Regions from separate parts of the Homo sapiens genome. Here region 2 is linked to region 1. Evidence: fine-mapped QTL for protein levels in blood plasma. A gene starts in region 1. The other region holds a variant in brackets. All regions are shown on one strand. Distances are from middle to middle. Region 1 holds the start of SELPLG (selectin P ligand). Region 2 has its middle 18 kb from the start of TMEM119.

Region 1 (11,622 bases):
CTGGTTTCTCTGCCTCCAACCGCCTGTTCCCTGTTTTGCTTCTAGAGTGATGTTTTCTGTCAAGGTCTCTGAAGGAGACACAAGTGATTATCCCTTTTGTCTACAGGAGGAAGTTCATGCTCTTCCACCTCTGAGCCTCCTTGACTCCCATCTCTTCTTGCGTATCCCACACCCAGGCTCTGGTTTCACAGTGCATCCATATCCCAGCTACTTCTCACACCTGCCCGGTGACTCCCCCAGCCTGTGCTCCCATCATTTCTGCGTGGACAGAGCCTCTCTATTAGCGTTCTCCAGAAGAAGAGAACCAATAGGGTCTGCGTGGGGGAAGAGAGAGAGAGATCGGGATGTATTTAAGGAATTGACTCATGATTATGGAGGCTGCTAAGCTCCAAGATCTGCAGTCAACAAACCAGAGAGACCCAGGAGAGCTGAGTTTTTCAGTTCAGATTGGAAAGCAGCTAAAAACTGATGTCCCAGCTTGAAGGCAGGCAGGAGTAATTCCTTTTTTTTTTTTTTTTTTTTTTTGAGATGGAGTCTCTCACTCTGTCGCCCAGGCTGGAATGCAGTGGCACGATCTTGGCTAACTGCAGCCTCCACCCCCTGGGTTCAAGCAGTTCTCCTGCCTCAGCCTCCCAAGTAGCTGGGACTACAGGCATGCGCCACCACGCCTGGCTAATTTTTGTATTTTTAGTAGAGATGGGGTTTCCCCATGTTGGCCAGGCTGGTCTTAAACTCCTGACCTCAGGTGATCCTCCCACCTCGGCCTCCCAAAGTGCTAGAATTACAGGCATGAGCCACACGCCTGCAAGGAATTCCTTATTACTCAGCCTTTTTGTTCTATTCAGGCCCTCAACTGAATGGATCCACCCACCCACACCAGAGAGAGCAACCTGCTTTACTCAACCCACAGATTCAAATGTTCATTTCATCCAGAAAACCCTCACAGACACACCCAGGGTAACGCGTGACCAGATATTTGGGCACGCCATTGCCCAGTCAAGTTGACAAGGTTAACAGTCACAGCTTCCTAACCCAGCTTCCCCCACCCACTTGAATCTGTTCTCAGAGCTGCAGCCATAGTCACCTTTTCAGGTATCAAGGTGGGGGAAGACATGCTAAGGCCCATGGGCTAACTCCAACCTGCCGGAAGCTTCTGTGTAGCCCACAAGCTAAGAAGGCTTTTTACATTTTTAAATGGTTGGGGGAAAAAACAATATTTAGTGACAAGTAAAAATGATATGAAATTCAAATTTCAGTGTCCATCAGTAAAGCTTATTGGAACACACTGTGCCTTGTCTGTGGCTGCTTTTGCTCTATACTTGAAGAGTTGAGTAGCTGCAACAGAGATCGTATGGCCACAAAGCCTAAAATATTTACTGTGTAGCCCTTTAAGAAAAAGCTCATTGACCCCTGTGTCTAAGGCTTCAAACCCTCCATGGTTTCCCATCCCACTCAGAATAAAAACTAAATCCTCACCACTGGCTTAGGAGGCCCCGTGTTGCCTGCCCTGCCGCCCCTCATCCTCTCCTGATGTTCTCTTGTGTTCAGGAGGCCTTCTACCCCTGAGCTTCGCAGGTGCTGTTCTCTCGGGAGTGCCCATCCTTTCCCCACCTCCAGTGTCTGCCCTTCCCAGCACTTCACCTGACCCCCATATGTAAATAGTGCCCGTAGCACCTTAGTAGCACTGATAGCTGATCTATCATCTCATTGGAGTTTTGAGTGTCTTCCCTGAATTGAATATAAGCCGCATGAGGACAGGCACTGGTTTCCTTCACCAGGATCCCCAGAATCTGGCATGATGTGCCAATCAGTACTTACTGAAAGACTGAATAGTTGAAAATGTAGACATTATCTGGGATGGGAGCACATATTGCATTATCCGCCCAGCGGTACTTTGCTCACAGAATAAGACTGTCCCGGAGCACAGTCAACTCCAGGTGACCTATGAGCCCCTTGGAGCCACCATCAGTGGCATCAGATCTGGGTTTTCCTTTATGGGGGCCTGGGAGTTGGGGAAGCCAGGGACCACGCAGGCAGAGCAGATACACAGTGATGAAGAAAGGGCTTCTGGGTCCCTGTAGCTCCCCGAGTCCATGCCTAAGGTCCAGCTTTATTTCTGATCTTAAATTCCACAAAATATCCCAGGACTCCTATTGCCAGGCCCCTGGCCTCCTCAAACAACACCAAGGTCTCTCCCCTAAAGACCCCTTCCCAGGGGTCTTTGAGGCCAGGTGATTGAGGATGTCTGCCAGAGGCATGGATTCCTTCAGCCACTACCCTCTGGGGAAGAATCACGGAGTCTGGAGTACATTTCTAACATTTGTTTGCCCTCTGGCCTTCCAGGTCTGGGACCAGCAGCGCTGGCTACCCCCAGCCCAAGCAGACCCAGTGAGCTGGGGAGCCCCTGTTTTCTTCCACTCTGGAGGAATGGCTTCATGCTGCAGTCTCCAGCCCAGAAACTGGTTCCTAGTGCCGCCCAGATTGGCAGCGAAAATCTGGGGCCGAAAGTGAACTCCCCAGAGCTCTGTTCCCATTTGAGAAAGGGAATTGAATCCTGGCTGGAGCAGGCCCACAGTGGACCATTTCCCCTTTGGATGATTCAAATCAGCAAGCTGTAGCCCGTGAGCCCCCCTAGCAGCAGGGGAACGGGGGAGGGCAGGCAGCTGGGCGTGACTTCCCCTCCTCCCTTCTGGGCCTTGCTTGCGAGCAGCTCTGTTCTTATTCTATTTCATGAGACCGTTGCTTTCATTCGAACAAAAGGTCCCATTGTGAGTAAACTGAAAAGACCACTGCCCTGAGAAACAAGCGGCACAACCAGCAAGACTCTTGCTTTCCTCGGAGGAAGGAACAGGCTTTTAATGGGCTTTGCAGTCTGGCTGGGCTCCGGTCCGCCTGTGCCCTCCTGCGCCACCAGGGAGCCTCAGTTTCCTTGGAGGGACAGTGACCACTGGCAAGGGAGGTGGGATTCTATAAGCGACGTCACCCCTGTTTTCCCCATTTTTAGGGAAGCGGACACAGGTTTGCATAGGAAGCCAGCACCTGGTCGGGGAGGGATAACAGTTCCTGACAAGTTACACATAGATTATAAAATCTCAGGCTATACCTGGCCTGTCAGTTATAGTCCTTGCCTAGCCACATATGTTCAGGATTCCACAAATGTTTAATTTTTCATTTTCTTTAATAACTGTACTGTTGACCAACCTAAGCTTGGTAAATACCAGGCTGAAGCTAAGTTGCGCTGGCTTTTGGCACCCAAGCCTCCAAGCCTTCCTCTCTTTGTCTCTATAATATGAGGCTTTATTACAGCTGTGCTTGTCACTGGTGGGAACAGTTCCCCACCCCGAAACAACAAAGAAGCAAAACGCAATTAAATAGACCACTGCACACATGCAGCTGTACAGGCTGTGGTGTTGCCTCTGGGGACTGGGGACCACCATGAGGCTGCAGGCATTTTCATCCATCAGCGAATGGAAGGAAGACTGAATTTAGTGCACGGATGATCATTTAAGTATAAAGAGGTTATAGGTTGTTTGTTTGAATACCAAATCTCTAGTTGCTCAGGATCCACTTGTAAGAGAGCTCCAAGTAGGGGCCCAATGAGCCATGTTTTTGCTTTAACATGGGGCTGTTCCAACAGTAGCAGGCAGTTAGTTACAACCAGGAGCACATTTTTCTCAGAAGACCCATAAACAGCTCTTGCTTCCTAGGCTAGCCCACTACTGGGCTCCAGTGTAGAGAGGAACCTAACACCCACTGGCTTTGCTGATTGCAATTCCTGCTCCACACCCCAAGCAGGCTCACACGGTGTTGCGAGGAGGTGGGGAGAACTGGGTCCTCTTAGACCAATCACAGCAGGCAAGGTCTGCAAGGAGGAGCTGGAATCACTTATATATTGAACCAATATTTATTGTGATTGAATGCAGGCTCTTTCATAGGACACCCTAGGTTCAGACTCTGGCTTTGCCACTTACTAGCTCTGTGACCTTAGGCGAGTTTCTTAACCTCTCTGGAACATTTTTTTTAATCTACAAAATGGGGATACTAATAGTACCTACCTCATGAGGCAGTTGTAACAATTAAACAAAGTAGTAGACCAGGCATGATGGCTCATGCCTGTAATCCCAGCACCTTGGGAGGTGGAGGCCGGTGGATCACTTGAGGCCAGGAGCTTGAGACTAGCCTGGCCAACATGGCAAAACCCCGTCTCTACTAAAAATACAAAAACTAGCAGGCCATGGTAGTGAGCACCTGTAATCTCAGCTACTAGGAAGGCCGAGGCAGGAGAATCACTTGAACCCAGGAGGCAGAGGTTTCAGTGAGCTGAGATCGTGCCACTGCACTCCAGCCTGGGCGACAGAGTGAGACTCTGTCTCAAAAAAAAAAAAAAAAAAAAAAAAAAAAAGAAAAAAAAGTAAAATAGACATCATTATATACATTTTTTCTATATACAAATATAGAAAAGAAAATATATTTAAAAGGAAAGGGGCATTAATAATTATGCCACCCAGAGATAGGCACCGTCAGCATTTCTTTCAGTCTGTCCTCTCAGCATGCAAGCACACTTGAATTATGCTGTTTATATACTTCTGTGCCCTCTCTTTTCTACCTAACAGGTCTTGAGTGCTTTATAAGCATTCAGTATAAATATAACTTTCATGCCTGCGTCACATTCCATCAAGGGACAGGTTTCTGTAGTAGGGGAGTCTGTGTTTTTTCCCAATATTTCTCTCACCTCAGATATCATTGCTTCAATCTTGGAAGGCAACTTGGAGTATTTTTCTTGGGCTTCATTCCTAGAAGCAGAAACATATTCACTTTGAGTCTTTGACTCTCACAGATGTCAGGTGCGGTGAAGTGTGGTTTTATGGTCTTCACACAGACGACATACACCAGATTTATCTTAGCAATATTTGCTCCTCTGAGAAGGAAATTTCACTGCTCAAGTCTCACCTTGAAATAGATTACTTGGAGCTGGGCGTGGTGGTGTGCTCCTGTAACAGCTACTGGGGAGGCTGAGGCAGGAGGATTGCTTGCTTGAGACCAGGAGTTTGAGGCTGCAGTGAGCTATGACCACGCCACTGCACTCCAGATTAGGCCACAGAGCAAGACCCTATTACACACACACAGAAGAAATAGCTTACCTGCTGCTAAGCTACTCCTTTTTCCTTACATATAGTAATTGCTGATGTGCTGGAGCTCACCGTTCAGCCTGCACCATCCCAGGCTAGGGGTTAAGATCAAGAACATTATTTCATGTGCCTGGACTTGAGTCCTGGCTCTGCCATTACTCTGTGTGCCCTTGAGCAAGGCACATTCTCCCTCTCAGCTTCAGTTTCCTCATTTCTAAAGGCAGCTTCGAGGATTATATGAGCTGATGTATGCAAAGCACCTACCACAGGGTCTGGCATTGACCACAGGCTCAGGAAACGTTAAGCGTTTGTGTTGTGAGGCTTTGCAGGTGATGAAACTATTCAACTCTGCCGCTGCAACGTGAAAGCAGCCAGAGACAATATGTTTACACCAATTAGTGTGGCTGTGTCCCAAGAAAACTTTATGAAAACGGAATCTCGAATTTCGCACAGTTTTTATGCATCACAAAACATTTTCCAACCACTTAAAAATGTAACCACCATTCTTAGCTCACAAGCTGCACAAAACCACGTGGCAGGCTGGATGTGACAGACAGCTTGCAACCACTCACCTCCGCTAATCAGAGAGTGACCTGCAGGCAGTCTTGGGTGTGTTTAGAGTTTCTCAGTCCCCTGTCCCTGAAGGATGGCTATTTCCAAACCTGCTGGGGAAGGGTGAGGGGCCTGGGTTCTAGGGGTCTCACTTCCCCTCTTGTGGCTTCAGTTTCCCTGTCCGTGCCGGCAGGGTGAGCTTTTGGCTGTTTCCAGCTGCAGCTTCTTAAGGTGGCTGAGACTGTGTCATGGCGAACACCTGCTGGGTCTCTGGTTTTCATTTTAAAACAACCTGTGTGCGGCTGGGCACGGTGGCTCACGCCTGTAATCCCAGCACTTTGGGAGGCCGAGGCAGGTGGATCACCTGAGGTCGAGAGTTCAAGACCAACCAGCCTGACAAACGTGGAGAAACCCCATCTCTACTATAAATACAAAATTAGCCGGGGTGGTGGCACATGCCTGTAATCCCAGATACTCGGGAGGCTGAGGCAGAAGAATAGCTTGAACCCGGGAGGCGGAGGTTGCGGTGAGCCGAGATTGTGCCATTGCACTCCAGCCTGGGCAAAAAGAGTGAAACTCCATCTCAAAAAAAAAAAAAAAAAACAACTTTGTGCAAGGCAAGATATGAGTATCTTTCTGTGCATGTCCTGAGCCCTTGCCTGGTGCAAAGCCGCAGGGCAGATCCTGGGAGACCCCCCTATTCCCTCCCTTCTGGAAGTGTCTGGGTATTCTTAGGCCTCCCAGCCTTTGCCTCTGCTGTGCTCTCTGCCTGGGATGCCCACCTGGCTTGTCATCTCAAGTGCCACTTCTTGGAAGCTCCTCCTGTTAACCTCCCTCCCCCACCCAGGATGGAAGGAGAGGCCCCTCCCTTGCTCACCGCAGGATGGCACTCACTGCGCTGTGTCATTGTGGCATGATGTTCCACCGAATTGTTTACTCGCTGGCCTCCCCATTGGATGGAGGGCTACCAGAGGGCCACAGCCCAGAATTGCTGGCCTTTAGACCTCAGGGCATGCAGTCTGGAGTGCCAGAGTTGGTCAAATGAACAAATTTAGGATGAAGAAATAAGATAAGCAGGACTTGCCCTTGTGGTATCTGTAGTCCAGCTCCCTAGAGAGGCTCTTGGTTGCAGCTGAAAGGGCCTGTGCTGTGCATCTACAGAGAGTGTTTTGAGTCCTGCGAGAAGAAATACACCATATTTGCAAACCCTTTGAAGGTTCATATTTTGTGTTTTTTGCTCCCTGACCACCTCCCACCCCTCCCCACGCCCCACCAATCTTGGGCAAGAAGCGAGACCATTCTCCTTTTTCTCTGGTCACTCCTGTCCTTCAGGGGGCTCCCTCTGGCCCCGACTGTCCATTGCTGCTGAAGTAATGCTGTGGCCTTTCTCAGTTTGGGCCCCACCCAAAACCGAAGAACTTCTCCCCAGAAAGCTTCTACTTGGTTCTCAGTGTTTTCACAGTTATGGGAACCCAAGAACAGTGTCAGACCTAGGAGGTGCCCCACTACCACCCTGTCTTTATCAATGTTGTCACCAAAGCTGTCACAAACAATGGGGTGTGGGCTGTCACATGGCCCTGCCTAAGTAACCACATTCTCGCTTCCTCCTTCCACACACAGCCATTGGGGGTTGCTCGGATCCGGGACTGCCGCAGGGGGTGCCACAGCAGTGCCTGGCAGCGTGGGCTGGGACCTTGTCACTAAAGCAGAGAAGCCACTTCTTCTGGGCCCACGAGGCAGCTGTCCCATGCTCTGCTGAGCACGGTGGTAAGTGCTGGCTTGCAAAACCACAGGGAGTGGCTGGAGGTCCCCATGGGCCAAGGGCCTGCCTTATAGCTGCTGGCAGGCCCGGGTAGGACCGCCAGGCCCTTCTTGAGCTGCAGCACCTGGGGAGGGCAAACTGAGGCTCCTCCGACTCAAGACTAAAGTCTTCCTGGAGTCTGTGGCCTTATTCTGTGACTCTTCTGAATCCTGCTCCTGCCAACTTTTTTTTTCCTTCTTTTTTTGAGACAGGGTCTTACTCTGTCACCCAGGCTGGAGTGCAGTGGCACAATCATGGCTCACTGCAGCCTTAAACTCCTGGGCACAAGTGATCCTCCCACCTCAGCCTCCTGAGTAGCTGGGACTACAGGCGCACATCGCCGCATGCAGCTAATATTTTTACCTTTCCTAGAGATGGGGTCTCACTTTGATGCCGAGGCTGGTCTCAAACTCCTGGCCTCAAGCCTCTTGCGTTGGCCTCCCAAAGTGCTGAAATTACAGGTGTGACCCACCAGCCCCAGCCTCCCATTAACTTACTTCCCTCCCTGGCCAGTTTGCCTGCAGCGTCTGGCTTGGCGGCATTCTGATTTTGAAAATCAGAGAAACCATGAGTGTTTCCCTAGAAATGATCTTATCCTCTCCTTTCCTGGATGGGAAACTGAGGTCGGGAGAGGTGAAGGGATTTGTTTAGGGGCAGAGCTGAGATTAGGTCTGGAAGACTCCAGAAAGTAGGGGGAGTGCAGGATTTCTCTTGAAGCTGCATGTTATGGACGCATAAAAAAGTTCTTTTCAGAGAAAGATGCATTCTTCCCACTTTTTATAAGACTGAGGAAATGACACTTGTCTGTGGCAAACTATTAAAATATTAGAATTAAGATACTATTGTTAGCAAAAGGGAAAACAATAATAATAATAATAATTAGAATATTTGGCTGGGTGCAGTGGCTTACACCTGTAATCCCAGCCCTTTGGGAGGCCGAGGCAGGTGGTTGGCCTGAGCTCAGGAGTTCTAGACCAACCTGGGCAACATGGTGAAACCTCGTCTCTACCAAAAATACAAAAACTTAGCTAGGTGTAGTGGTGTATGCCTGTGGTCTCAGCTACTTGGGAGGCTGAGGTGGGAGGATCACTTGAACCTGGGAGGGGGAGGTCGCAGTAAGCCGAGATTGTGCCACTGCACTCCAACCCGGGTGGCAGAGTGAGACCCTGTCTCAAAAAAAAAAAAATTAGAATACTCTTATTAGTTTGTATTTGAGATACTTTCAGGACACTAAAAGGAAATGGTGGGGGCCAGTTGTGCCCTGCTGTACACACATTCACACACACACACACACACACACACACACACACACACACCCCATATTGTCGATATCTGGGCTTCTGTTGCCTGGAATTCTCTTCCTCTTTCCTCTTTCTTCTGTTTTCCTTTTTTTTCCATCTCTGACTTTGAGGCCCCCAGAGCCAGGCCCCTCAGTGGGCCGGGGCCTCAGAAGGTGGCTCCCAGGCCCTCAGACAGCCCCAGAGTCTCTTCCGAGGCCGTGCCCTGGGTGGTTGATGCCTCCCTCAGCAGGCTTGGCCAGCAGCCAGGGGAGTTAAACCTCAGAGAGCGGAAGGGCTGGGTTGCTAGGCTGGGCCCAGAGTGGGGCATTCAGAGGAGCTGGGGAATCAATCATCCGAGAACCTTGGAGGGTGGACAGTGCCCCTTTTACAGATGAGAAAACTGAGGCTTGAAGGGGAGAAGCAGCTGCCTCTGGCGGCATGGCTTCTGGCTGCAGGATGCCCATGGAGTTCGTGGTGACCCTAGGCCTGTGTCTCGGCTTCCTTTGCTGAACTTGAACAGGAAGATGGCAGTGGGGGCCAGTGGTCTAGAAGGAGATAAGATGGCTGGTGTGTGTGTGTTGGGGGTCTGTGTTTGTTAATCTGTCTGTCTACACAGGGGTGTTTAGAAAACTGTTTAAAGACAGTTGTTCAACTAACCAGATGTAGGTCTCATTGAATTCATTTGTGCCAAGTACCTTACTGCCTCTGGATCAGGCCAGCAAGTTTGGGTTCCAACAGGTGTAACTTGGTTCTTGGTGGGGTGGAGGGTAGGGAGGGGGGTGTAACAAAAAAATCTCAACTAACACTGTGGTTTGCAAGCCACCAAACATTAAACAGATATACAGCATATCTGTGCTATTAACTTTTCATGAGGAGGGCTGGTCACCGTGGCTCATGCCTATAAATCCCAGCACTTTGGGAGGCTGAAGCAGATGGATTGCTTGAGCCCAGGAGTTTGAGACCAACCTGGGCAACATGGGGAAAACCCATCTCTACAAAAAATTTAAAAGTAGCCGGGTCTGGTGGCATGCACCTGTAGTCCTAGCTACTTGGGAGGATCGCTTGAGCCCAGGAGTTCAAGCCTGCAGTGAGCTATGATTGCACCACTGTAGTCGAGCCTGGGCAACAGAGAAAGACCCTATCTCTAAAATTAAATAAATAAATAAACCTTTCATAAGGGCGATGATAAGTGGGAAAAAATGTCTACAGAGACTCCCTGATGTGAGTTGAGGTAGATGACGGAAAGAGGTTGCAAAGTGTCAGCTGGCAAATGTGGTGTGAAAAGTGTGAAGACAGCACGTGCTGTGCAGTTCTGTGCACGTTCCCCTGCCTCAGTCACATGTCCTCTTCTGCAGAGGCATTTAGTGAGGCCCCTGGGGATGCCAGGAGACCCAGGAGAGCTCCTGCCCTCCAAAAACTTGTGGTCTGGTGGGGGCAGCAGAGCAGACAGCCACAGTGGTTGCCAGCCACTGGGGCGAGTGTTGCGAGGGGTGTGTGCCTGCCCATCGGCTGAATCCTGGGCCTGTGGCCTGATCAGCAAGACAGCTGTGGTTCCTGCCTTCTGGAAGTTTAGGAGTCAATGTGAATACATTTTTAGAAAATAAATGAACAGCAGAAATGATTTAAACACGGGAGGTGACTAATCGTGCCTGGGGCAATCTGGAAAGGCTTCTGGGAGGACTCAGCATTTCCCTGGCCCTCTTCAACCCACAACAACCCCATAAAAAGCGGGTGCTACCATTGTCCTTGTATTCCAGCTAAGGAACCCACAGCTCAGAGAGGTGAGGTGAGTTGCCCCAGGTCACACAGCTTCTAAGGGACAGAGCTGGGGATTGACCTGGTTTGATGTGACTCCCAGGGCACAGCAGGGCAGGGCAGGGCCTGTCCTGTCTACCCAGACTTAGATCTGCTGCCTGTGCCTCAGTTATCTGGGGTCTTTCCTTCTCTTGGTGACTACTTGACCCAAACCCTGAGATGCTCAGTCTTTTGAATTTTAGCATTCCAAGATCCTGCCCGCTCTGACCACCAGTTTCAGGATTCTCAGTGCAAGGTTCCTAGCGGCGTGGAGCCCCACGAGGATCTTTCCTGAGCAGCTCAGGGCGGCCACACGGCGGGTTCTCTGGAGCTGGAGTCTGGGCCCCCTGCAGCCTGCTCCTCCACACAGCCTAGATGGGGCCCATATGGGGTCTAGATGGGGCCTGGGCCAGAAGCAGCCTGGTTTTAGGGCGAAAGAGGCAAACGAGCAGTCTCTGACCTACTCTGTTAGGCAAGTGTTGAGACAAATAGGACGTGGTCACTGGAGACGCCTCTGTCGGAGCCCTGCCCTGGCCCCACTTCTGTGGGACTGTTTTTTGGCCTTCCAGGAAGAGGAGAGGTGGAAGGTGGGGCCTGGGAGTGATCCCGCCGCTCCGGGCCTTGCTTGCTAATCAGTGTGATGGCACCGTTAGAGCCAGTGAACACAGGGGTGAGGAGGAATGAGGTCACCAGATAGTGAGAGGATGAAATCATCCCTCCGTGGGAGGGGCTTCCACATATGTCATTTTTATTGTTGTATAATACATTTACTGTAGCAAATATTAAGGAGGTATTATGCTACCTGCCATACACGGTGAGAAAACTCAGCTCCTCCCCCTTCTACCTGTGTGGCCTCAGCTGAGACAAGATCTCTCAGAGCCTCGGGTTTTCTTTTCTTTCATTAAAAAAAATATGTTTTTTTCTTAGAGACAGGGTCTTACTCTGTCACCCAGGCTGGAGTGCAGTGGTGCGATCATAGCTCACTGCAGCCTTGACCTGGGCTCAAGCCATCCTCTGGCCTCAGCCTCCCGAGTAGCTGGGACTACAGGCATCACCAGCATACCTG
Region 2 (11,534 bases), 20 kb after region 1:
ATTTTGCAGTGGGGGCATTTGGGCTCAACTATGAGTACAGCAGGGGCAAGTGGGAGCTGATAGCCAGGGAACAGGGTTGGATATCTGCAGCTGGAAAATTACCAAGAGGAAACATCAGGGGAAGGGGAATTCTGGCTAAACTGACTGCTGGGGATGGGTTCTCGGTCATTTTCTACACTGACCTAACAGGATTCATACTGGAGGCAGGCCAGGGTGCTCAGACATCACCGGGGGGATGGTGGCAGATGAGGAACGTGATCAGATATAGGAGGTGATCAGATATGGGAGGTGATCAGATATGGAGTGGTGGGGGGAGGGTTGTTGCTAAGCTGACTTAGCAGAGTTCTTGTTAGAACTGGATTTTATTTATTTATTTATTTTGAGATGGAGTTTTGCTCTTGTTGCCCAGGCTGGAGTGCAATGGCGCGATCTGGCTCACTGCAACCTCCGCCTCCTGAGTTCAAGTGATTCTCCTGCCTCAGCCTCCTGAGTAGCTGGGATTACAGGCATGCGCCACCACGCCCAGCTAATTTTGTATTTTTAGTAGAGATGGTGTTTCTCTATGTTGGTCAGGCTGGTCTTGAACTCCCGACCTCAGGTGATTCTCCCGCCTTGGCCTCCCAAAGTGCTGGGATTACAGGTGTGAGCCACCACGCCCGGCCCAGAACTGGATTTTAAAAGGAAGTGCACAGATGGGCCTAGGAGAGGACTCAGGGGCCTGACTGATTAAAGCTTGGCCAAGCACAGAATCTTTCCCACTCTCCAGAAGCTCACCCTGACCTCTCCTTTTCACTCAGGCCCTGTCTCTCATTAACAGCCAGTAGCTTATTGGTGATCCTAGATGCAGCCTGCAACCTTTTGTACAACTCACAGAAGCACTGATTTGCTGTCAAATGGTGGAAAAGTTCAAGCTGCCAAACTTTTTCTTAAAGGACCAAACAGTGAATACTGTAGGCCTTAACTGTTGCAACACCATAGCCTCTGTTGCAACAACTCAACTCTGTCCTTGTAGTACAAAAGCAGCCACTGACAATATGTCCATAAATGAATGCGCATGGTTGTGTTCTAATAAAACTTTATTTACAAACGGGCGGCAGGCTCATTTCAGCTCCGTCAGTTTGCTGACGCCTGATTTTAAGCATAGGGTGACCAGTCGTCCCAGTTTGCCCGGAACTTTCTTGATTTTAGCACTGAAAGTCCCATATTCCGTGAAACTCAGCCCCAGTAAACCAGGTTGGCCCTGCTATTTAAGCAACACTTGCATTATCCCATTCAAAACTCACACTACCTTGTGGGGGTCAGGTCACCGCCCAGTGGATCCACCTTGCCTGCTGCCTAGACAGAGCCGATTTATCAAGACAGGGGAATTGCAAGGGAGACAGAGTAATTCATGCAGAGCAGGCTGTACAGGAGACGGGGATCAGAGTTTTTAACGACAATTTGGCGGGTAAGGACTTGGGAAGTTGGGAGTGCTGATTGGTCAGGTTGGAGATACAGTCATAGGGGGTTGCAGTGAGGTTTTCTTCATGTCTTCTGTTCCCGGCTGCGATGGCAGAACTGGTTGAGCCAGAATACCAGCCTAGGTGGTGTCAACTGATCCATCCAGTGCGGGGTCTGCAAAATATCTCACGTAGTGCTCTGAGGTTTTACAATACTGATGTTATCCACAGGAGCAATTTGGGGAGGCTTAGACTCTTGGAGCCAGAGGCTGCATGACCCCTAAACCATAATTTCGAATCTTGTAGCTAATTTGTTAGTCCTGCAAAGGCAGATCGGTCCCCAGGCAAGAAGGGGGTCTTTTCGGGGGGAAGGGATATTATTAATTTTGTTTCAGAGTCAAAACACGAACTGAATTATTTCCCAAAGTTAGTTCAGCCTAACTTTGGGGAAGGAATGAACAAGGACAGCTTAAAGGCTAGAAGCAAGATGGAGTCTGTTCGGTCTGGTCTCTTCCACTGTCATCATTTCCTCAGTTATAATTTTTGCAAAGGCAGTTTCAGTCAGATTAGAAAACCAGGATTTGGAGAGTTCTTGCTCTTCTGCTCCCAAATACCTTCCAGTCATTTCCATAGAGAGAGAAAGAAGCTGCCGCTTAAACAGACTCTGTTCTACCTTCTAGGAGAGGAATAAAAGTCATCTCAGGGGATAGTCTTTATTTTTCTTCTTGAAAAATACCTCCGGCTGGGTGTGGTGGTTCACGCCTGTAATCCCAGCACTTTGGGAGACCGAGGCAGGAGGACGGCTTGAGCTCAGGAATTTGAGATCAGCCTGGGCAACATGGTGAAACCCCGTCTCTACAAAAAATACAAAAATTAGCCAGGTGCAGTGATGTGCGCCTGTAGTCCCAGCTACTCAGGAGGCTGAAGTGGGAGAATCACTTGAGCCTGGGAGGTAGAAGTTGCAGTGAGCCAAGGTCATGCCATTGCACTCCAGCCTTGGCAACAGCAGTGAAAAGCTGTCTCAAAAAAAAAAAAAAAAAAAAAGAAAAGAAAAGAAAAGGAAAAAGAAAAAAAATACCTTCAATGGCCTCTTTGGAAGTGAAGGACTTCTTTCCTTGCCCCCAATGGTTTATCCCGGAAAA[G/A]GGGAGTTCACAGAGAAGGTTGAGTCTGGCAGGGGTTGGCTGTGGCTTGGGAGAGAGGGGTTGGAGGAAAGAGACAAGGGAAAGGTAGGAAAGAGCCGTCAGGGGGAAAGGCCATGGGACAGCATCGGGGAGGAGTGGGGAGAGGGCCCACACATATTGGAAATGCAGTGTCTGTCTCCTCCCCTGAACTTCTGGAAGGATCAAATCTGATACACACAGGCAGGTGTGTTCAAAGTGTCCTGGGGGTGCTGATGGAAGAAGGTGGGAGTGTCTGCCATGGGCTGGGTCAGTTAACACCCGGGGTCGGCAGGCTGATGGGTCAGGAGAGACTGAGTCTACCTCCCCTTTGGGAGGGATCAGAAAAATCAGAGAAGGGGAGCTGAAGGCTCCACAGCAGGGGGCTGTGGACTCAGGCTGAAGGACCTCTGAGTTGTTCCCCAGGGATCTTGTCACCTCGTCTTCCTGGGAGCTTTCCCCTATTTCCTGACAGCTCCTGAGGATGCTGTGTAACCACAGATTTCCATTTGCGTTGGAAGAGGGCCACCTTCCCTTTACAGTTTTCTCTCTCTCCAAGGTGTGGGATTTCATTCAGGGTGGGCGAAGCCGGGTGCTTGAAGCGGCCACCAGGGGGCGCCCGCCGCCAGCTCTTAGAGCAGGTGGAAGCCTGCGTTTCCCTTGGGCCAGACTTGGAGATCATTTAGCCAGGAAGGAGCCCCAAAGCCAGTGGCGTGCTGTTAAGTGTTTAACAACTGGCTTCCAATGGGAAAAAGTCCTGATTTGTAGCATTTGCCAATGTCTTCCATGTAAATACTCCCACAGCCGATTTTGAGCTACCAACCATTATATAGTTGATGATACAATAGGTGTTAGTAACAAGGGCATCGATCATCGGATAATGTAGTACAATTATTAGGAATTGGTGAGTTTTGAGTACTGATGACCTTGGCTTTTAATATAATAGAATTTAATTTATTAAACAACTGACACAAAATTCTGAAAATTTTGTTGATTAGCTCTCACGGGCAGATATAGTCTGGCTCCTGCACACCCCTGTGCCCTCCCCTCCTGCCTGGGCCTCCCATGCCCTTGAGGACCACCAGCCTGAATCACCCCACTCATCCATTCAGCAAACACATCCTGAACACACACACAGCTGCAATATCCCCGTGAATCCCCTCAAACAGCTCTCACAGACGGTTCTAGTATTCTCCCCATTTTACAGAAGATGAAACTGAGGATGAGAGCTAGGTGAAGTCACCTGCCCCAGGTCATGAAGAGGATCTGAGATTGGAACCCAGACCTGAAAGCCAGGATCTTACCACTGTGTCACGCTGTCCTTGAGATCACAGCGGGGTTCTGGGGGAATCCCACGCCCCAAAACCTCAGCCCTGCTGACCTGCCCTGGGGCCTGGAAGTCCCCCATTAGTCACCCTCTGTGGCTCCTGGCTGCTGAGGGAAGGCGCTGTTCCTTGGGAGGGTAACCGAGTACAGCGCAGCCCTCTCATTGCAGAGAACACAACACAGCAGAGCTGGGGCCTAGGACTAAGAGGGATGGCCGGGGGCAAGCAGCTGGCCTTTACTGAGCACTTACTGCATACCTAGTGCCTTGTCAAACAGTTTGTCTGCATTATCTCATTTAGGACTCAACCTCATAATGTGGGTGCAATGATTGTTCCATTTTCTTGCCAGGGAAACCGAGGTTCAGAAAGCTGAACCACTTGCTCCAGCCGGTTGCACGGTTAGGAAACCACACTGTGCTGACTTCAGCTCTGCCAGCAGGGAAGGAAGGAGGGTAGACAGGAAATGGGGGGCGGGGGATGATGGGCTCAGTTTGTTCCAGGTCCCTTGTCTCTTACAGGCTGGGGCTGCCACCCTGGGGGTGGTTCATCCAGCAGCTGATCTGGCAGGGGCTCCCCAAATTCTTTCCCCAGATCCCATCCCTCTTTGCCACTCAACCAAGCCACCGATTACTATGGAATGTGCCAGGCACTGTGAGAGGCCCTGGGATGCCATGTGAGTAGGACAGGCCTGTAATCCCAGAACTGTGGAAGGCCAAGGTGGGCGGATAACTTGAGGCCAGGAGTTCGAGACCCCTTTGGGGCTCATGGTCTAGAGGGGGACAGATTGATCAAATAATCACCCAGGAAAAGATCAGATTATGTCAGATTATGGCTGGGCCCTGAGCCCAGAGGAGAGATGCTGGGAGCAATGGGGCCAGAGCTGGGGGGCATGGGTCAGGAAAATCATGGTTGAAACTTGAAGGACACAGAGTTATTGACTTGGGAGGGAAGGGATAGAGGGAAGAAAGTTCCAGGCAGTGGGAGCATCATGGGCACAGGAGTTTGCACTAGGGGAGCAGACAAGGTGGGGGCAGCTGGAAGGAGCCAGGGTGGCCGCATGGAGGAGGAAGAGGCTGTGTGAGGATGAGGAGAACCTGGACTAGAGCAGGGTGCAAAGAAGTTGTGGAATCGAGAGGTAATTGGGAAGAAAAGGGTAGGAGTTGCTGATGGGTTGGAAGTGAGGAAAAAGGAGGTTGAAATCTCAGGTTTCTGACTTGGGCAGCTATCCTGATGAGGGTGCCACGGGGTGGCTGGGAAAGCCATGGAAGGAGGTTGCAGGGCTGGTGGTAAGAGGAGTGTCCTGAGCTGGGGTTCAGCCAAGTTGGGTCTCAGGGCCTGCTCAACCTCCAGGTGGAGGTTCCAGGAAAGCTGTTGCAAAAGATGCTTGAGGTCATTAGCCATCAGGGAAATGCAAATTAAAGCCACAGTCAGATGCCACTTCACACCCTCCAGCAGGACTAGAATTAGAAAGACTGACAACACCCAGTGCTGGTGAGGATGTGGAGAAGCTAGAACACTCACATGTTGCTGGTGGGAATGCAAAATGATACAGCCACTTTGGAAACCAGTTGGGCAGTTTCTTATAAAGTTAGACGTGTACTCACCATGTACTCCCCATCCAAGCCAGAAATCCCATTCTTAGGTATCTCCCCAAGAGAATGAAAACAGATGTTCATACAAAGACTGCTACAAATGTGTACAGCAGCTTTGTTCATAAGATCCCCAAACTGAAAACAACCCAAATATCCATCAGCTGGTGAATGGATAAATAAACTGTGGTCCATCTGTGCAAGGAAATATTACTCTGAATAAACAGGAGTGAGGCACTGATTCTCATGCCAACATGGATGAATCTCAAAGACACCATGCTGACTGAAAGAAGCTAGACACAAAAGGCTATATATTTTTTTCTTTTTAGAGACAGGGTCCCACTCTGTCACCCAGGCTGGAGTGCAGTGGCGCCATCATAACTCACTGCAGCCTTGACCTACCAAGCTCCAGCGATCCTCCTGCCTCAGCTTCCTGAGTAGCTAAGACTGCAGGTGTGCACCACCATGCCAGGCTAATTACTTATTTTTTTGTAGAGATGGGGGTCTTGCTATGTTGCCCAACCCAGGCTGGTCTCAAACTCCTGGCTCAACTGATCCTCCTGCCTCGGCCTCCCAAAGTGTTGGGGTTACAGGCGTGAGCCACAGTGACATACAATCTGGCTGGGCTGTATGTTGTGTGATTCCAATGATAAGAAGTTCTGGAAAAGATCAGTGGTTACTCTTGGGGGTGGGAAATGATTAGCAGCGGCTTGCAGGAACCCTCTGGTATGATGGAAACATGTTTTATTTTGGTCTGGTTGGTTGTCATACGGGTGTCTGCATTTGCCAAAACTCACTGAACTGCATTTTTACAATTGGTGCTTTTTACTGTGTGTAAAATATACCCCAAGAAGCAAGCAAACCAATAAGCAAGCAGGCAAGCAGGTGAATTCACAAGGCTGTGTGAACCCAGAGGTCGGCCAAGGCATGTGTGAGAGCAGGGGGCCTTGGGCATGCTCCTTGGAGCTCCCACAGCTGCTGTCCCTGCCCCTCCCAGGGACTGGGTGACGGGGAGGCCCAAGGAAGCCACATCTTTTGAGGTCCCCTGTGAATGTCCTTACCTTCTGCGGCTGTTCCCCTGCTCAGAGACTATCAATGGCTCCCCAGTGCCCAAGTCCACAAGAAGTTTCCAGCTTCCTCACTCGCTGCCCACTCACCTATATGTCTGCCTGTCTGGGCAAACCGGCCCTCTCACTCCTCCTCACCCATGCCCCACGGCTCCTGCCCTCTCTGCCTTTTGTTTCCACTTTTAGGGCTCAGCTCCCCCAGGCCCTGGAGATCTTTTTGGATCCAGCCATGTCTCTGGGCTCCTCCTTTGCTCACCCCCATCACCCTACTTGCTGCGGGGCAGTATTTCACCCCGTCTTTGCCCCAGTCCTGGGCACAGAGACCAGCTTGGTTGGCCAACAGTTAACTCCAGGTTATTCCTCCTCCATCTGGGGCCTCAATCTTTCCATGTGTAGAATGGGCGTCTCTGTGTCTGCTTATGCCATCAAGTGGCCACTGCTTATGTGTCCTTCCCACTCAGATAAGAGTCACACAAGGCAGGGATTTTTCATTCCCCAGAAGACTTGGGAAGGAGACAGAAGTCAGTCTGATGCCTGGTTCTGTCTTTGCCATGTGTCTCTCCAAGGCTCACAGTCCTCATCTGTAACATGGGATGCTCATAGGGCCCGGGGCACTGTAAACAATTACCCTTGACAATAGCAGAAGTCGACCTACCCTGTGAGGTTAGGTCTTATTCTCAACCCCATTTTATGGATGAGCAAATGGAGGCCCAGAGAGGTTCAGTGACTTGCCTAAGGCCACACAGCATGAAAAATCACAGATTCGGGAGTAAACTCCTAAGACTTTCTGGGGCCACCAGCCACCAAAGGCTGGCTCCTTGAGAAGGGGCTGGGAAGTCCCCAAATCTCCAAATCTCCAATTCTCCAAGCCAGGTCCTGGCGTGACTTCTCATCAGCCACAGAGCTCCTCTCTGGAGGCCACTCTGTGCTCACAGCATCCCCAACTGGGAGAGGGGGTCACTGGGAGGCAGTCACTGGGCACTGCCCATTCACGAAGCCTCTACAGAGCTGGGTGCCGGGGAGGAGGTGGTGCCAAAGATTGCTGAGGGAGCAGAGGGGGCTGCGTCCTTCCACCACCCCTGGACTCACTCTATGAGACCTTGGGCATGCCACCGCCTTCTCAGGCCCCGATTTCTCCTTCTATGAGATGGGAGACGTCTGTATTAGTTCCCCGCTGGAGGGACAGCTTCAAGGAGCCAGAAGCAGAACTGGGGGGAATTCCCAAGGCTGTGTGAGCCCAGAGGTCTGCCAAGGCGTGTGTGAGGGCAGAGGGCCTTGGGCATGCTCCTTGGAGCTTCCACAGCTGCTGTCCCTGCCCCTCCCAGGGACTGAGTGACCGGGAAGCCCAAGGAAGCCACACCTCCTGGAAGTCCCCTGTGAATGTCCTTACCTTCTGTGGCTGTTCCCCTGCTCAGAGACTATCAATGGCTCCCCCAAATAAGACAAGTTTCTATCATATTACAGGGTCCCTGCAAGTCCCTCCAAATCATTCCCTCCCCACCAAGGGTAACCACTGGTCTTTTCCAGAACTTATCATCGGAATCACACAATATAACATACAGCCTGGCCAGATTGTATGTTACCGTGGCTCACGCTTGTGACTCCAACACTGTGGGAAGCTGAGGCGTGAGGATCACTTGAGCCAGGAGTTCGAAACCAGCCTGGGTTGGGCAACATAGCGAGACCCCATCTCTACAAATTTAAGTAATTAGCCTGGCATGGTGGCGCACACCTGCAGTCCCAGGTACTCAGGAAGCTGAGGTGGGAGGATCCCTTGATCCTGGTAGGTCAAGGCTGCAGTGAGTTATGATTGCACCACCGCACTCCAGCCTGGCCTGCAGAGTGCAGGTGAATGAACCTGGTTGATGTAATGGGTACTGCCCTGAGAGAGGCCTCCCACCAGGCAGCAGAAGGCTGCAGCTTGGGAGAGAGGGAAAACCTGGAGGCAGGACTGTGAGAACGTCTGCCCAGAGGCGGGACCTGCAGCTGTGGGGAGAGGTGGCATTCCTCAGAAAAGGATGTGAGCCTTTGCCGATATGACACCTCTTGGTAATGGCAAAGATGTTCTCACACCCCACGTGATGGGATATTTTTTATATCCACTGGGAGAGAAACCAGGTAATGACAAACAGCTCCTGTGTGAACAACTTTTTTTTTTTTTTTTTTTTGAGACACAGTCACGCTCTATCTCCCAGGCTGGAGTGCAGTGGCACAATCTCAGCTCACTGCAACCTCTGCCTCCTGGGTCCAAGCGATTCTCATGCCTCAGCCTCCCAAGTAGCTGGGATTACAGGTGTGCACCACCATACCCAGCTAATTTTTTGTATTTTTAGTAGAGATGGGGTTTCGCCATGTTGATCAGCTTGGTCTGGAACTCCTGGCCTCAAGTGATCCGCCCCACCTCGGCCTCCCAGAGTGCTGGGATTACAGGCATGAGCCACTGGTGAACAACTCTTTCTAATGTCTTTCACTGACGTAGCCCAACTGCCTCTAGAGACAGTCGACAAAAGATCAAACCTCTGTGTTTGAGGTGTCGTGTGAATTAGGGTCGAAACATGGTTAGCCTTGAGGACTTTTGTGGTGATCATGCTGTACCGCCCCCTGGGGGCAGAAGTGGACAGAGACCTGATTGCTGAGCATTTAGGGGCACAAGGTCTCTCGACCCCTCACTCATGCACTCGCCCACACAGTCCCTGGGCATAAAATGCTGTGTGCTTGTGGGAAGGAATTGTGACTCATCTTTGCCCTCAGCCTCTAGTGTGATCCTAGCCCAGAGTAGGTGACTCAGAAATGTTTGTGGAATATTCCAGCAACTTGGAAGAGGTAAAGAAAATAAGGCAGCCCCAGGTGTATGATCAATCAAACATGATTCAGCAATTGAAAATGATGTTTTTGAAGGATAATATGGAAAAATGCCCTTGACATGATGTTAAATGAACTCTGAGCCTTAGTTTTTTCATCTGTGAAATGGGATAATAATAGTATCATCTTGCAGGGGTGTTGTGGGGATTTAATGAGACTGGCATGGAAAGTACTTAGCATGATGCCTTGCAGAAAGTAAGTCCTCCGTAAATAGTCGCTAGAAGGTTAAGTCCTCCATAAATCGTGGCTATAAGGTAAGTCCTCCATAAATCGTGGCTATAAGGTAAGTCCTCCATAAATCGTGGCTAGTAGGATTATCAAGTATGAAGAAAACATGACCAGAAGGAAATATACCAAATTATTGAGAGAGGTTAGTCACTGAGGGTAGGATTTTGGGTGAGCTTAATTTGCTTCTTTCAACTTTTCTGTGTTTTCCTAATATTCCCAAATGGACAGAAAGAAACCCAAAGTGTTAGGAAATCTAGTGGCCCCAGGCTTTATCCTTTAGTTATTAATGCCCAAACAGGAGTGCTCTGAGCTAGTGGTTCTTCCCCGGGGATGATTTTGCTCCCTAGGGGACATTTGGCCATGTCTGGAGACGTGTTTGGTTGTCACGATCGTGGGCATCTGGTGGGTGGTGGTCAGGGATGCTGCTCGACATCCCACAGTGCACAGGACAGCCCCCCACAGCACAGAAGTCCAAAAGTGCCGTGGTAGAGAAACCCAGCTCTGTGGCTTCCCCTTCGGCAGTGTGGGATTCCCAGAACCCCCCTTCCCAAAGATTTCTGGAAACCCAGAGATGCTTCTGTGTCATCATGAACATGGTTGTTGTGCATCCCTTGGTGGCTGGAGGGCTGCAGTGGTTGCTGCCTCTTTTCTAGCACACACACAGGGCCCCCCAGAACTGGGCACACCTATGCCCAAGGTTGGCAGAACCAGAACGCCACGCCGAGATGTGCGTCGGGACAGCCTTATTGCTGCTCCTGCCAAGAAAAAAGGAGAAAGGAAAGGGCCCCATGGCAGGGAGACCTAAGCACAAAAGTGGCACAAGCACAGCCCCTTTCACAGGCACAGGGACCCTGCCAGGGTGGCCGAGTGAGGGTGAGTTCTCACAACGGTGGTCAGTCTCAGCCCTGGTTCTGAGATGCCCACTACTCCCTTGAGGTAGCTCTTTCTGGAGTCCCTGTTATCTGGCTTTGTGCCCGACCTCCAAGCCCCTGAGAGGGAGAGGCTTCAACTGATTTTCCTGAGAGGTTCAGTAGCCCCTCCGCAAATTTCTGGATACAAACAAATGCGTGGGCTAGCAGGATTGTCTGATCCTATCAGCAGAAGCTTCTGGGCCCTGACTCCTGCCCAGCTCAGATGCCATCTCATCTGTTGACAGTCATCTAGCTTGGACGGGTGAAGAAAAGCTCCCGTCACCTCCCACTCTGCACCGGCTCCACGAGCTCTCTTGCTCTTTTTCAGGTAGTGCTGCCTCAGGGCCTTTGCCCTTGCTGTTTCTTCTGCCTGGGGCCCTGTTCCCAGATATCTGCACAGCTGGCATCTTCTCATCCTGTAGGCCTCAGCTTGGATGTCACCTTCTCAGAGAGGCCCACTCTGCAGCCCTGCCCCCAGATATTCACTAGGACACCCCCTTTTCCTTTCAAGGCACTGGTGACGGTCAGAGTGATGTTGATAGATTGATTTGCGCTGCCTGTGGGTGGGGCCTGTGTCCCTCATGTCCACTCTCTCCCTGTCCCTGCCTGGTGCCTGGCACATGGTAGAGAATCAGGAAACATGTGAATAAAGGGACTAGCAAGGGAGGCTTTGCAGAGGGCGTAGGGGCTGAGGCGAGGCAATGGGACCGACAAAATTTAAGCAGCAGGGGCAGAGAGCAGGGGGGCCTTAGGTTTAAGGCTTGGAGTCAGGCGACCCTGGTTCAAATCCTGGCTCCACTGCTTAGGAGTTGCATGACCTTGGGCAACTTGCTGACCTCTGGCAGCCTCCCTTCCTCACCTAGGAAATGGGGAGAAGCATCCTTCCTACTCCTAGGGATTTGGAAGGGTGGAGTGAGCGTGGACAGCCTGGCACACAGTCGGTGCCAGTTAATGCT

Evidence for each region. PIP is the chance, under the fine-mapping model, that this variant and not a neighbour inherited with it causes the effect. The UK Biobank Pharma Proteomics Project read protein levels with antibody pairs (Olink). The fine-mapping took linkage between variants from a reference panel, not from the people measured, so its PIPs are less certain.
Region 2: its variant is fine-mapped to the plasma level of the SELPLG protein (UK Biobank, PIP above 0.99).

What each region holds. Positions count from the first base shown.
Region 1 is chr12:108,629,566-108,641,187 of GRCh38, reverse strand. SELPLG (selectin P ligand) reads left to right here and starts at 7,294. Exons shown (of 2, transcript NM_003006.4): 1 at 7,294-7,448. It overlaps MIR4496 (microRNA 4496), which reads right to left and starts at 5,378; the gene lies at 5,318-5,378. LOC105369968 (a long non-coding RNA gene) reads right to left here. Exons shown (of 3, transcript XR_007063449.1): 2 at 4,951-6,857; 3 at 1-4,793. RefSeq lists a silencer at 6,483-6,532 and enhancers at 7,773-7,822, 9,231-9,380.
Region 2 is chr12:108,609,966-108,621,499 of GRCh38, reverse strand. No RefSeq gene overlaps it. Among named protein-coding and RNA genes, the nearest start is that of TMEM119, 18 kb to the right of the region's middle. RefSeq lists enhancers at 3,119-3,168, 3,749-4,208 and a silencer at 11,213-11,507. The variant G/A (reference allele first, on the strand shown) is at 2,582.